Homo sapiens: one gene and its partner. The protein of the gene in region 2 purifies or fractionates together with the protein of the main gene of each other region. This does not show direct contact. Each region holds a gene or a part of one and is shown on either strand. Other genes may lie near its edges.

What was found. Proteins that work in one complex are often made in the same cells at the same time.
Region 1: the proteins of PCDHGB1 (region 2) and ITFG1 purify together in Homo sapiens (co-immunoprecipitation; 3 studies listed by BioGRID and IntAct, with this or other methods). This does not show direct contact.

Annotation. Positions count from the first base shown.
Region 1 is NC_000016.10:47,458,964-47,462,563, forward strand, and holds the start of ITFG1 (T-cell immunomodulatory protein isoform 1 precursor), read right to left. Parts: upstream 2,101-3,600; 5' UTR 2,083-2,100; coding exon 1,875-2,082; intron 213-1,874; coding exon 140-212; intron 1-139. Other genes in the region: PHKB (phosphorylase b kinase regulatory subunit beta), read left to right, coding at 2,388-2,463. UniProt on the Homo sapiens protein: Modulator of T-cell function. Has a protective effect in graft versus host disease model.
Region 2 is NC_000005.10:141,356,395-141,360,237, reverse strand, and holds part of PCDHGB1 (protocadherin gamma-B1 isoform 1 precursor), read right to left. Parts: coding exon of another isoform or gene 2,575-3,843; exon of another isoform or gene 2,505-2,574; intron 245-2,504; exon of another isoform or gene 103-244; coding exon of another isoform or gene 1-102. Other genes in the region: PCDHGB2 (protocadherin gamma-B2 isoform 1 precursor), read right to left, coding at 1-102; PCDHGA4 (protocadherin gamma-A4 isoform 1 precursor), read right to left, coding at 2,617-3,843. UniProt on the Homo sapiens protein: Potential calcium-dependent cell-adhesion protein. May be involved in the establishment and maintenance of specific neuronal connections in the brain.

The sequences.
Region 1 (3,600 bases), on a different chromosome or scaffold from region 2:
ACTTGCTACTCATACCTCACAAACAGTGGTTTTGCATCCCAACACTAAGGCTGACTTTAAAGACAACCAATCAGCTACTGCATATCCATTATTATATTAATGACTAAAGTTTTATCAAAATAATCATATTTGTACTTACTTGAAAGATACCTTTACTTTGGGTTTAAAATAGGGTGCATTCTGGTCTGCCAAAAAGACGATTAAGTCATTTCCTAAAGAAAACAAATATATGATATTAGAAAAATGTTTGTTGATAAGATATCTAATCAGTGGTTACAAGAAGGTTTCTGGGCACTGTTCTCAACAAGAAAACTTTTATTCTACTCCAGTTCATCTGCCCTCTCAAGCATAGTCCCACTAGTCCAATGGAGATGCCTAACATTATATCACAAGTTCAATGTTCAAAGTAGCAGAGAAATAGAAAGGATGAACATGGGAAAAAGCAGCTGATCAAGAGAAACTGAAGCCAGTGGATTCTGCGAGGAGTCAGATTGGTTGACTTAAAAGAACCATATAAAGATGCCTTATAACTATACTACATGTCAAGACTTGTCTTCCCCGAATCTAGCAATGCTGTCCCTTGTAAGGCTGTTTGGTTCATTACACAGATGCATCACACCAAGGATGCAGGGACTCCCATTGTAGATATCTGACAAAGACATAATTAAGCATGTGAGCACAAAATGCTGAATCCTCCAAGACCCTCCTCCTATGGGGCCATCCTCCAGAGGGTGACACATTCTTGGAGCTCAATTAGCACTCATTGAGACAGACTTTTGGAATTGTTTAATCAAACACAGGCCATCTTTAAAGTCAAGGCTACTCTCTGTATCCAGTTTGGACACAGCAGCAACAGGTTTGGCAGTACACTGCAAAATGAGGAGTCAAAAAGATTGGGAAAATATTCAGGGTTTGTAAGAGGTTCCTGCATCCCCGCAAGGGCTCCAAGAAGTCTGGTTCAGGATCCTGTCAGGCAAGCTCTGAGTAGCTCTTCCTTCCTTCCTTCACAGCATTGATCTTTAAGCAGCACCTGCTTCTGTAGGTACTCAAGAACCCTAAGACCCCCTAATGCCCACTGTCAGCATCAAGATTTACAAAAAAGTTAGTTTAACGATTGTCAAAGCAAAGAATTTCCAAGAACAAGTTAGCAAAGAAAGTAGACATTTGGAACACTAAGGTGATGACCAAGATGAGGAAGGAGTACACGAAAGAACAGGCAGCTCAAGAGAGAAATTTCTGTAGTTTGAGACTGCTTTCCCAAGGAGGCATTGGGTTTATCAGTGGTCCCTGCAAAATGCTTGTGTGAGCTGTTTAGTGTTTAGGCCCTTGGAAGGGTACATTCGCTTCATAGAAAGTTGTGGCCTTGACAAAGAAAGGGGTGGGCGAATTAGGTAGGTGGGGAGGCAAGAAGAAGCCCCCTATGAGAAGAGATTGTCAGGTTGCACCTTTTCATGTTCATCAACGGGGAAGGAAGACTGAAGCAAAATAGAAAGGAATGAGTGGGCCTTGGGAGCGAACGTTGAGGCAAGCTACAAAGATTCCTAGGAATCAGGAAGCACTTTGGAAAACAGGTGATTCCATGGGGAGGAGGGGGTAAGGTGACTGGGTGAGGGCCGCAGACTTCTTAGGAACAAAACTGAGGTGCTGTCAGGGCTTTTGAGGGTAGGTCAAACTGTAGGGTAGCTGGGTCAGAACCTGGGGTTGGAAAGGGTGGTGCAAAAGGACAAGCTGTTAAGAATGCTAAAGGGAAGGCCACAGGGCTGGGAGAGAAGGACCAGGAAATGCAGAAGGACCGGCCATTGGGCAATGGGTTTGGGGAACACCGGGAGAGGCACACGGACAGCGAACAGAGGGAGGGCCCGGCAAGCACTGACTTTCCCGCAGCACGAAGAGATCCGTCTGCTTGTCGGAGTTGAGGTCCCCGAAAGCCGCAAGGGTGCCCCAGGCCTCGGCCCCAAAGAGCTCGGCCGTGACGTTGTGCAGCGCCCGCGCTGGGACCGGCCCGACTCCCAGTAGTGCAAGCCCTGCGAGGAGCGGCGAGAAGAGGGCCCAGGAGCTCGGGAGCCGGCCCGCCGCCGCCATGGCAGCCCCTCAGCCCCCGCCCGCCGGCCCAACGCCGCGCTTGACGACAGCCGCAAAGCACCGCGTTACCGGCCGAGAGAGTGGCGCGCAGCCCCGGGACGCGTAAGAGCCGCTGCCGGCTCCTTTTTCTCTCTCCCACTAGGGCTGCCCTTCCGACGCTAAAAAAGCAGTGGAGCTAGGGTGAAAGCCGCCCTCACGCTCACTTCCGGCAGGCGCGCCTCCCGACAGTGTCGTGCGGGGGGCGTGGCCCGGCATTGCTGACAGGCGGCCCCGGGGGCGGTGGCCAAGGCGGCGACCGGAGCGCGATGGCGGGGGCGGCGGGACTCACGGCAGAAGTGAGCTGGAAGGTCTTGGAGCGAAGAGCTCGGACCAAGCGCTCAGGTTTGGCTGGCTGGGGCGCCGCCCCCCACCCGAGTACCTTGGGTGGTGCTTCGCCTCAAGCGCCTTGGCGGGAGGCAGGTGGGGGCCCTGGGAATGAACCTGTGCCCCGAGTTCCTCCTTAGAAAGCAGGTGGCGGCCCTGGCCTTGTTTCTAATATCTTCCTCCACCTCTAAAAATTAGGTGGCAGAGCCAGCTCCACTCTGCGTGTGCCCCCGACTCTATTCCGCTTGTGAGCCCCACTCGGAAAGTAGGCAGCGGTCCGGACTTCCCTTAGAGTCTTCTAACTTAAAAATCGGGCGGCGGCACATTCCTGGGAAAGGGAATGTGTCTTCCCTGTGAATGTGTCTTTCCTGTGAATGTTCTCTGCAAAAGTCAGATAGCTTAATCAGACCAAGTCAGATGTAACTACGATCTGGCTGCAGAAAGCCGGCGTCTGGGCTCCTTGCTTTATGTCTTATATCCCTTTTACATTCCCCACAGGTTCTAAGCAGTAGACCTGTCATCTATCTAGCAGAAACTGAAGGAGACTGGGCCTCAGATATTGAAGAGTATAGTTAGGGCCCAGAAAGAAAAGGGCTTCTTAAGTGGCCCCAGGTTGTGTGGTTTCCAAACCCGAAAGCATAGAGGTCAGAAGGTGCCTTGCAGGCAGTTTTAACAGTTCCAAGTGTCCCGAACTGACTTGTTCAAATTGCAACGTCATGACTTGTGGCGTTATTAAAACTTCCTGTATTCCTGGTTGGCTGGATATAATCTTGAACAAAAGGCATGCACTTAAACAGGAAAGGTGAAAGGCGGAATGCAGGTTTTCAGCTAAGGAGCTTCCCTTTTAAAGAATTGATGAAGTGTCATTATTGGGGGTGGGTGTGAAAGGTGTTAGCTAGGAAAATTAACTTTGCACTTGCATTGATATTAAGAAATTATTTTCGGACGGGCGCGGTGGCTCACGCCTGTAATCCCAGCACTTTGGGAGGCCGAGGCGGGCGGATCACCTGAGGTCAGGAGTTCGAGACCAGCCTGGCCAACCTGGTAAAACCCCATCTCTACTAAAAATACAAAAATTACCTGGGCGTGGTGGCGGGCGCCTGTAACCCCAGCTACTCGGGAGTCTGAGGCAGAAGAATTGCTTGAACCTGGGAG
Region 2 (3,843 bases):
GCGGATCTGGACTGGGAGAGCCCCGGGGAACAAAGACAACAGGAAGGGCAACAGTACCTGCAGCCACCGCACCAGCCCGCACCTCCCTGAGCTCGCTTTCATCTTCTGGCTCCCTTTGCTCCTTTGCCCATAGGAGGAATAAGCCTTCCGGGGATGGCAGAATCCGGGCTAAGGTCACTTTTCCTGCTTTTGTTTTCTGTTTCCGAATCTATACTGGCCTTCTCTGTGTGGTTGGTTTGTGCAGGAAGTTCCCCTCTAAGAGGCTCCCAAACGCTTCTCTTCGTTCTTTTGACCAACAGCGACGCTCAGAGGTTTTCTCAGGAAACTGCACTAATGGCTTGTCAATATTTGCTAAGAACTTTTTTCTTTTCTTTTCTTTTTTAATTTATAAAGTCTTCATTTGTTTTAAAATATGTGAAATATTCATATAGTTCCAAATTCAAAAGATGCATTCAGCATAGGTTCTTCCTTTCATCTCTGCTTTAGATGAGGAGAAATGCTTTCACAGGGGAAATGAGTGTTAAAGTTTCTTAGGTATCCTTCCGGAGATATGTCTTGTATAGGGCAACGGATTTTTATAAATATTCTGTCTCCTTCTTTACACAAATGTAAGCATACAACATACCATATTCTGCACATTGCTTTTTTAGTTGTTATATCTTAAAGATCATATCAGTACATAGAGAGCTTTCCTATTTATTTCTTATAGTTATCTAGTGGCCCATAATATAGTTATCTAGTAGTCCGTAATATGAATATACAACAATTTGTTTAATCAAAATTGTTATTTGCTAAAAGAAACCCACTGCCCATTCTAACAAAAACACATTTTTTAAAAAATTTGATTTTAGGTTATAAATTATCTACTGCTTTCCTAGGCCTTTAAAACATGTGGCACTCTCATTCTGGAATATATTCCTAATGCCAACACCTGAATATGCTTGACACAGTTTCAGACCAATTGAGCATTTCCAAATTATATTTTATGGCTTAATTACTTTAAACAATCTCTCCTCAGATGTAAGTTGTCTCTCAACATTCACTTGTTATTTCTGCTTTCTGCTCCCCAAGCCAGGTAACTGCATCATATCATATTCCAGCTTACTCTATGTATTGCACCACAACTTTCTATGAATACAAAACCATGTAGAAACTAAAACTCTCCTTTGTAAGTCAAATTGAGGCATATTCCACAGTCTATCACTACAACTTCCAGTTATCAAATTACACTAATTTGTGTAAGCATATGCATTCATGAATTTTGAATTCTCACAGAACCTAAATGAAAGCACAAAGAACAAAAGTGTTGTATATCCCCTACACACAAAATATTTTCCCTCATATAAAATAATCCCAGAGCCACATGATGACAGAAATATCTGAAAGCAATTTGTAGCAATAGGGATGAGGCCACCTTACTAAGCAGCGTAAATCATATCAGTCCAGAACCCAAGTAACTCAACCTTTGAAAGAGGCTCACATGATGACAAGAGAAAAGACTCCAAAAACTTATATTTTCCTTGGAAATCAAGAAAGTCTCAATAGTGATGTCATGATAAGCAATTTAAAAATTATTAAAGTTACTCCTAGAATCTACTTATATATGACTGAAATTAGCTTGGAAATATTTCTCATAATCACAGGAGTGCACCAGAGGAATCACACATAGTCACTTCTGGTGCATCTCAGAACAGCAACAAGAAAATATTTGAAATATACCAGTTCATTGAGAAAATATCCTGTTAAAGTTATATCTAAAAGTTAAACTCACAAATTGCCAGTATTCTTAAATTGACGTTGCCTGTTATAATGGAAAATACCCTTTCAAGGAAGGAAAAGTAAACTTCAAGCAAAGCATGGTAGAGTGTGAAAATAGGAAATTAAAAAACCCTCAGTCCAGATCCAACAATAGCTTCATGAGAAAGAATATTGTAAATGTGAATTTACACAATTGCCTTCTATTTTACAGGTCTCTTGTATCTTTTCAGGAACACCTAAGAGAAAAGGAAATTTATTCTTTATTTTACTTTATTTTATTTTACTTTTTGGAGACAGAGGCTTGCTCTGTTGCCCAGGCTGGAGTACAGTGTCATGATCTCAGCTCATTGCAACCTCTGCCTCCCAGGTTCAAGCAATTCTCATGCCTCAGCCTCCAGGGTAGCTGGGACTACGGGCACACACCACCACGCCTAGCTAACTTTTTGTATTTTAGTAGAGACTGGGTTTCACCATGTTGCCCAGACTGGTCTCGAACTCCTGAGCTCAGGCAATCCGTCCTCCTCACACTCCCAAAGTGTTAGGATTACAGGTGTGAGCCACCACACCCAGCACAGAAAAGGAAATTTAAGGAAATGAGGTGGCTCAGAGTTGTAAAATTAGAAAATTCTGGCTGAAACTACAACTGAATGAAGACCAAAAAGGATAAGTAATAAACAACATTTTTGTGTGGTAAATACTGTTGATCATTATTGGAAGGTCATCCACCAGTTTTCTTTAAAGCAATAAAATATTAAAAGAGGCAACTTTATTTGATATATTACATATAAAATGAGAGACATTTACACAACTCTTTGTCTATATTTCAGTGTGGTATGATCTATTATAAGATTGACTCACCTGAAGATTAGGGTCTCCTTTTGTTTCAAGTAAATCCTGAGTTATCAGAAGAGGCTCGCTTTTCTCACAACTCTCCCGGCTGATGAGCGTGTCTGCATAGCTGGGTTGGGAGAAGATCAGGTGACTCTTCCGCGAGTCCGCGGTGAGGGAGACCTCGTGGGAATAGGTCTGCAGGAAAGCCCGAACCCCGTCCACGCCCACAAAGTGCGAGGCAGGCACACCTGCCAACCTGCTGCCTTCAGCGTGAAGCAGGCGTGACTTGTGCCAGCGTCTCAGCTTGAGTGCTAGCAGCACCGTGACAAAAGCCAGGAAGACGCAGGAGACAGCGGCCACTGCCACCACGAGATAGAGTGTGAGGCCCGAGTCGTCTGGGTCTGCTGAAGGCTTGAGGCTGCCCAAGTCAGCCAGGACATCTGGGATGCTGTCGGCCACAGCCACAGTGAGTGTGACGGTGGCCGAGAGAGGGGGCTGGCCATGGTCCTGGACGACCACTACAAGCCTCTGCTTGAGCGCGTCTCTGTCCAGCAGGGCCCGTGCGGTGCGCACCTCGCCTGTGTGCAGCCCCACTGCAAATAGTCCCGGCTCGCTGGACTTGAGTAGGCTGTAGGACAGCCAGGCATTCTGACCTGAGTCTCTGTCCACTGCCACCACTTTGGTCACCAGGTAGCCGGAATCTGCGGAGCGGGGTGCCAGCTCCACACCAGTGGAGCCATCAGTAGGGAAGGTGGGGTACAGGATCTCAGGGACATTGTCGTTCTGGTCCAGCACAAAGAGGCTCAGTGACACATTGCTGCTGAGTGGAGGGTCTCCACTGTCACTGGCTGTCATCAGCAGCTGCAGGTCTCTAAACTGCTCATAGTCGAAGGAGCAAAGAGCATATAGGATCCCTGTATTGGAGTTGATGGAGACATAGGAGGACAGAGGTGCACCCTGGAAGGTGTCTTCGGCCAGGGAGTAAGTGATTCGGGCATTGTCACCACTGTCAGGGTCTTGAGCAGTCATAGATAAGATGGAGGCTCCTCTGGGGTTGTTTTCAGGAATGTAAGCAGAGTAGGAAGCATGAGGGAAAGTGGGTGGGTTGTCATTGATGTCCATCACTTGCAGTGAAATATGAGTTTCTGTAGACAGTGGAGGAGTTCCCTGGTCAGTGGCAGTTACAGTGATGTTATATTCTGAGACTTCTTCCCTGTCCAGTGTTCTGTGTGTCAACAACCGATAATAATTTCC